2 linked regions of the Homo sapiens genome follow. The protein of the gene in region 1 purifies or fractionates together with the protein of each later gene. This does not show direct contact. Each region holds a gene or a part of one and is shown on either strand. Other genes may lie near its edges.

Region 1 (3,817 bases):
ATATGATCTTGTTTAAACAGCTTTGAGGTTTAAGAACTCAGAGGAATCTATGCTCTGGGTTTCCTATTGTGCTCAAAGGCTAAAGTCCAAAAACTACAATCTGGTTTTAGCCTAATTTCCCTAAATTTGTTTCCTGTTGTACCCTCGCAGGTACTAAGTTTCAGCCACCCTGAACCTTTCTGTTCCCTGAACATTCCTCTCTGCCTGAGTGTTTCCTCTCACTCCTTGAAATGTCCTCCCTCCTCTTCTCTATCTAATGAGTTGCTACTCCTCTATGAAGACTTCCTCAAGACCCACACAGAGTTCTCTGTCCTTTGAACTCTGTCCTTTGAACCCAAATCGTAACTCTGTTCTGCCATTTGGCTGTGACCTAGTTTCTGCTAACTAGACTTAGACTTTGACTTGCTCAAGGACAGGAAAATGTCTTATTTATCTTTCGATCTTCAGAGTCTAGCTCAGTGCTCTCTCTCTCTCTCTCTCTCTCTCTCTCTCTCTCTCTATATATATATATATATATATATGTATATTTGTAAAGGTGGGTGTTTGCCATCTTGCTTAGGCTGGTCTTGAACTCCTGGCCTCAAGTGATCCTCTCAAAGTGCCGGAATAATAGGCATGAGCCTCCCGTGCCTGGCCTCCAGGTCTTTTATTTTTCTTAAAAATCCCAAGTAGCTGGGATCAGAGGCACATGCCACCACGCATGGCTAATTTTTGTATTTTTAGTAGAGATGGGGTTTCACCATGTTGGCCAGGCTGGTCTTGAACTCCTGGCCTCAAGTGATCTGCCTGCCTTGGCCTCCCAAAGTGCTGGGAATACAGGCATGAGCTACCGCGCCCGGCCTCATTCAATATTTTGAATGTACAACTCAATGTGCTCTTAAGATAGAATTTGAAACTAAGATATGGTAAACACATTATCTGGCATTTTAAGAAATAACCACGGTACAGAAAGAGTTTACAGATGAATTCTGAAGGTAATTTTCAAGCCTCATTTTCACACTTAGCTTTAAATCCCTCCATTCTTTCATTCCCCTCTTGTGTGGGTCCTCATAAGCTTTGAGAAAAGACTGAAAAGGAAAAAGTAGCCCCGAAAAAGAGAAAGGACCTAGACAAGAAGTATCTTAGCAACCAAGAGTAAAATGTGCTAAATGACTTGAAAGTGATTACCTTAGAGTCATTTCATATTATGAAAGTTTGGTTTCCCAGCTAGATTCCAGGATATTTGATGTAGTTATTCTGTTTATGATTTTTGGGCAGTATGCTTGGCAAGCTAGCTACTGATTCAATGACTGTTTCAGCTTTTTGTTCTGGGTAATACCTCTACCTAAGCTTTAATGATGGGCTAAAACTGGCAAGAAAAATGAGGCAATTTTAAGATCTAGTGCCTTAGGAAAGAAAAGGTAGAGACAAACAAAATCCTCTATTGATGTTCTGCTCTGTATTTATTATGATAACAGTTATTTTGTTCTGTTTTGGAAAGTGTTGATTTTTGATTAGTATAATTTTCAGTCAAGATCCAGTTGGATCTTTTTTTAACTTTGAACCTAACTGATACTGTTGCTGGCATGCATAAGACACTAAATAAATATTTTAGGTAATTCAACATTGACTTAATGTTGAGATGTAATTAATCACAAACATTAAAGCAAGCTTGACTTCTATATTTTAAATTTCAGTTGTTGCCACCTCCTCCCTTTCATGGTTCCATCAGCCGCCTTCATCAAATCAAACAGGTAAGAAGACTTTCCAAACTGACAGCTGTTCATTTAAAAAAGTAAATTTTATTTTTCTTTGTGAAAATACCTATGTTTCAGTAATTCTAAGTGAGGTCACGTGTAATATTAAGTTTTTATTTCTAGGAATGATTTCTTCAAAAAAAAAACAAAACTAAGAAGCACTTTTTTTGGCTTATTAGCTATTTTAATTAATTAATAATTTCTAGAAATACTGCATACTCTTATACCTTGAGTCTAGCTTCTTTCTTCCAGGGATCTGAAAGTGGAATGCTACACATAAAAATTAATTTTCAGCTTCATAATAACTGTAGTTATTATTTTTTTAACCCTCAGATGAGTTTTTTTGACAGATAAAATGGCCTTCATGCTATTGTTTTGTTCTTAGTGATCTGAGTTCAGGGACACATTGTACCTCACTGGTTTATATTTTGTGCCCATGTGCACGCATGCACGTCTCTGTGTTTGTGTGTTTGTGTTTGTGTATGTGGTTGGGAGGGTGTATGTGGGTGGGTGGGTGTGCACTCATGTGCACATGCATGCTTAATAGCACAAGCATAATACAGAATTCAACCTTTTAATTATCCAAGGATTAGCCACAGAACTCAAAAGATCAAATCACCACTACCCCACAGGTGGTATTTTTTTCTTTGACCCAGCTACAAGCAGACATTTTTTCCCCCAAGAGAGGCTTAACTTATTATTCACTTAGTACTAACAGGTACTTTACATTTGTGGTCTCATTTTATCTTACAACAACTTTATAAGGTCAGAAACTAAAAAGGGGAGAAATTTAGCAATTTACCCAATCTCCAGAGTTGGTGAATGTCAGAGCCAAGATTTGGCCCCAGATTACTGGATTATTTTCCAGCTCCCCTTTCCCTGTTTCAGTGCACAAAGCCCATAATACCATCTTGTAATCCTAGTTATTAGTCCTCCAACTCTTGCTTCTTTTCCCTCTCTCCCTTTCACCCCTGTGGCATGGCTTCCCTAAGGTCAGCTTATCCACTAGCAAGAAAGTATGGTAAAAATGGTTTTTTTCCTTTTTTTTTTTTTTTTTTTTTTTTTGAGACAGAGTTTCGCTCTGTTGCCCAGACTGGAGTGCAGTGGCTCCATCTTGGTTCACTGCAACCTCCACCTCCCAGGTTCAAGCGATTCTCCTGCCTAAGCCTCCCAAGTAGCTGGGATTACAGACGCCTGCCACCACGCCCGGCTAATTTTTGTATTTTTAGTAGAGACGGGGTTTCATCATGTTGTCCAGGCTGGTCTTGAACTCCTGACCTCAGGTGATCTGCCTACCTCGGCCTCCCAAATTGCAGGGATTACAGGCGTGAGCCACCGTGCCAGGCTGTTTTTTTTACTTTTTAGTGGGTAAAACTTGCTTTTACTCCTGTCTTTGTATGTAGCTATTTTAGAAATTCTTAAGGAATGAAACAAGTTCAAAGGAGTAAAGTGACCTCGTGTTTATCTGTGCAATATGTTTCTTTGCTTCTCCTAAATTAAACCAAATATTTGAAAATGGGTTATGTGTTGCTATTTGCTGGTGAAGCTTGATATAAATCCTAATTTACACTGGTTAGGAATATAAGTTTAATGCAGTTTATTTCCATAGTAACATAATATGTATTATAAATATTTAAAAATGAAATATAAGTAGAAAATGAATGAGATGGGAAAAGAGAAAAACATTAATTTTCAATCTGGATACTGATTGAATGGAAAATTAAGACTTATTTTCAGCAGTTTAATGGTCTGATAGATATCTTAAGTTGCATATTTCTTTTTTTTTTTTCTTTGTTTTTGAGATGGAGTCTCACTCTGTCACCCAGGCGGGAGTGCAGTGGTGCTGTCTCAGCTCACTACAACCTCCACCTCCTGGGTTCAAGGGATTCTCCTGCCTCAGCCTCCCAAGTAGCTGAGATCACAGGTGCGTGCCACCACACCCGGCTAATTTTTTTGTATTTTTAGTAGAGATAGGGTTTCACCATGTTGGTCAGGCTGGTTTCGAACTCCTGACCTCAAGTGATCTGCTCACCTCAGCCTCCCAAAGTGCTGGGATTACAGGGGTGAGCCACTGTGCCTGG
Region 2 (3,817 bases), on another chromosome or scaffold:
GGAGGCCTCTGTCTTCTTTTCAACCCCTCTCAGCTTTCATGAAACAGTTTCATACTGTCCCAGTGGACAACCCTTACAGGTTCAGGAAGTGGCCCCATGTTTAATGAGCTTTGGTCCTTTTATATTCCGGACTCACATATAGTTTCTGAAAATTGAGGGTGTCACCCTCTGACCCGTTCAAGGCATCGTCAGGGCAGGCTCGATACCCCCATCCATCACTGCTGGAAACATTCCGAGATTATGATTCCGAGATTTCTATCCAGAAGAGGCAGAGTTTGTGCTCGGGCAGGGAGAGGGATAATAAAGGTTTGTGATGTCTCTGCTTAACCAGAAACCTGATTCCTGATTGTCCCCTGGGCAGCCCCTGGTTCCCCTAACATTTTACCTGGCAGTGTCCGAGCTTCAGCAATGGCGTCTGATGTCCTAGTCAGTCCATGCATCAGCAGATGTGGGATGGCATGGTGGGGGCATCCTCTAACAGATAGAAAGATACCCCAGGATTACAGAAATGGAGGGCTCAGTCTGGTCTCCAGCAGGACCTTTGTCCCTGGATGAGTTCACAGCACAGGAGACCTGGGAAGACACATGGGAAACAAATGGCAGGAACAAGAAGTGGAATTGTTGTCACGTTGATTCCTCCTCCCAGAGATCCTTTTGTTCTGTGCCTTTTCCCTTCAAGTCTAATTCTGTCTTTTCCTTTTGTTGCAATTTACAGATACTTGGCCGACCTCACATGCATCAACAGCAGGTAAATAACCCTCTCACCCCTCCCTAGGACTCACTATCTCTGGACATATTTTGTGTTTGAAACTGATAGGATGAGGCTCAATGTGGGCTTCTCTGTTTTCATGTCCCTGTGGGTTGCGTGGGAGGAAGGTGGAATCTCTGAGGAGCCAGTCCTGGGTCTGATGTTTGAGGACGGAGGGTGTTGGTGACCTGTCTCCCATGGAATCCTGTTCCAAGTGGTCAGGAAAGATCCTCATCCAGGTGCTCAGGACGAGCACTGGAGGGCTCCTTAATGCTGCTGGGACCTCATTCCTGGCCCTCAGGCCATGGGATCCAGACCTCTGAAGAGCGGGTGAAAGTGCCGGTCCCTGCACCTGTGTGGCCAAGGCCTTGCCATCACTGGCAATTTGCCAGAAGGCAGAGAGGCCCATGCAGGTGCCAATAAGCTCCTGAATATGGAGGGGGTCTAGGCCTGTCATTTGTAGCTGTGTAGCTCCATCCTGTGTTCACCCAGAGTGGGGAGTGGGGTGTCCATTCCTGTCCTCTCCTCTGGGGTCATACATGCTTACCCATAGCTTGAGCTTTTATAGACTTGAGTAGAATAGGGCATCACTTTTTCCACTATGACCAAGCTTAACCTCTGGGTGCAGCCATCTGCCATTGTGACTGCGTGCCCTGGTGACTTTGGCATTTGTATTCAAACTTGACTACTTTTCCCATTGCCCTGAGTGTTGTCCATGCCTTTTCCTTCACCTCAGAATGGAGATGGATGAAGGATTCTTGTGTTCCCCTGTAGGACCTGAATCCAGTTTGGCCCTGAGGCTGGTGAATGGAGGTGACAGGTGTCAGGGCCGAGTGGAGGTCCTATACCGAGGCTCCTGGGGCACCGTGTGTGATGATAGCTGGGACACCAGTGACGCCAATGTGGTCTGCCGGCAGCTGGGCTGTGGCTGGGCCACGTCAGCCCCAGGAAATGCCCGGTTTGGCCAGGGTTCAGGACCCATTGTCCTGGATGACGTGCGCTGCTCAGGCTATGAGTCCTACCTGTGGAGCTGCCCCCACAATGGCTGGCTCTCCCATAACTGTCAGCACAGTGAAGACGCTGGTGTCATCTGCTCAGGTGGGCCTCCAAGACCTTGGGCTCCCTCTCTTGGGGTAGATTTTGCTCAGGAAGCGAGGTCTCATTATGTTCTGATCTCCTCACTCAGAGCTTTTTCAGCCTTTCCTATATATCTGATATCTCCTTAGCTCTCTCCTAGGAAACTGCATGAGTCTTCATTGCCAGGTTTTGAGGAGGTCAGGTAGGACAACGGGCCAAAGTGAAATAAGGGTCACGCCTTTGTTCACCTACCGAGGCAGCGCAAGCAGAGGGAGAAGAGGAAAGTGCCAGGTCTTTGCCTTTTAGTGTGGCTGGAAAGGAATAGCTGGGGCTGGTTTGTTCATGAGGAAAGAGGCTGATTTGGGTCTTGGCTTTGCAGGCTGCATAGGACCATGGTGCAGGCGTCTGCTCAGCTTCTGATGAGGGCCTCGGGCTGCTTGTACTCCTAGCAGAAAGGGATGGGGAGGTGGCCTGGGCAGAGGTCACAAGGTGAGGGAGGAAGGAAGAGAGAGCAAGAGGGAGGGCTCAGACTCTTCAACCACCAGCTCTTGCTAGGAACTAAGAGAAGAACTCACCCCTGACCAGGGAGGGCACTAAGTTATTCATGCAGTGTTGGTCTCCATGACCCAGACCTGGTGCATCAGGCCTCACCTCTAAACTTGGGGATTCAGTTGCAATATAACACTTGGATGTGACAAGCCTCTAAAGTATAGCACCCTGGCTCTCCAGGGTTCCATCTTTCCCCTACTGAAAGATTTTGCAAAGGGTTACATGGATGAAGCACATATAGAGGATGGGGGAGGGACTGTCTCCCTGGGAGGAGCCCAGAACCACAGGCTCCTGCTAGGAAGCGCGGTCTTCTGCTGAGGCCCAATAAGGTGATGTCTTAATAGAGACACAAGGCTAGGAGTGCGGATGTGTGTCTGTCCCTCTCTGGCCTGAGATTTGGGGGCTGTGAGTCCTTGACCACAACTCCCTCCAGAGCACTGCAGTGTCTTGCCTGTGCACCGGTCTGGTGTGGAGTGTGCAGTCCCCATGAGGTCTGCTAGGCAAAGCATTGTTATGAACGCCTGTGGGCTGGACTGGAACATCAGAGGCAGGACTTTGGCTGGAGTGGCCTCCTCACATTTGCTAACTCAGGGACTGCTAAGACATGCAAGGGAGAGGGTAGGTTTTGTGTCAACCTGATTACTATGGGCAGACACAAGGTTAATCACCTTGGAGTTGGCAATAGTGGACAGGATCTGCCCAGACACCCTCCAAGGAGCATCTCTGTGGGGACATGCATGGCAATGCCCTCCCTCTGTGATGGGGACCTAGGGTGGACTGAAGGCATGATCTGTTTAGTTCCTTCCACCTTTGTTCCGATTTTGCCAGCTTCTGTATAGTGCATCTGATCTGACCTCCTCTTTCTCACAGCTGCCCACTCCTGGTCGACGCCCAGTCCAGGTGAGTCCCCAGTGTCCTTCCTTGGGATGTCCCTTCTCTTTCTGTATAATTATCCCTTTCTGCACTCCACAGAGCCCTCGTTCTTCTCTGAGTGAATACTACATGGCATACAATTTTCCCCTGCTCTGTAACTGAGACCCTGGAATGGCGCTTCTGAACCAGACATAGGGTTCAAGAGGCTTCTGTCTTCTGTTCCATTTATCTCAGCTTTCATGAAGCAGTTTCATACTGTCCCAGTGGCCAACCCTTAGAGGTTTAGGAAGTGGCCTCATATTTAAATAGCTTTGACCCTTTTCTATTCAGAGCTGATATGACCTTCCTGAGAATTGAGAGTGATTGCCAAAGTCTCCTCGGAAGCCAATGTCAGCTAAAGCCTTAAACATGGCTGCCGCCATGGGCAAGCAATGTCAGTGCAGGCCTGACACCTCCCTTCCTCACTCCTTCCAACACCCAGATTCTGCAGCGCTACATGTGCATCCAGAAGAGGCATAGGCCATGCTCGGGCAGGGAGAGGGATAATAAATATTTCTGGTGCCTCCACTT

The links.
Region 2: the proteins of PABIR3 (region 1) and DMBT1 purify together in Homo sapiens (affinity purification with mass spectrometry; one large-scale study listed by BioGRID and IntAct). This does not show direct contact.

What each region holds. Positions count from the first base shown.
Region 1 is NC_000023.11:134,827,550-134,831,366, forward strand, and holds part of PABIR3 (PABIR family member 1), read left to right. Parts: intron 1-1,676; coding exon 1,677-1,733; intron 1,734-3,817.
Region 2 is NC_000010.11:122,581,078-122,584,894, forward strand, and holds part of DMBT1 (scavenger receptor cysteine-rich domain-containing protein DMBT1 isoform e precursor), read left to right. Parts: intron 1-715; coding exon 716-748; intron 749-1,522; coding exon 1,523-1,846; intron 1,847-3,244; coding exon 3,245-3,274; intron 3,275-3,817.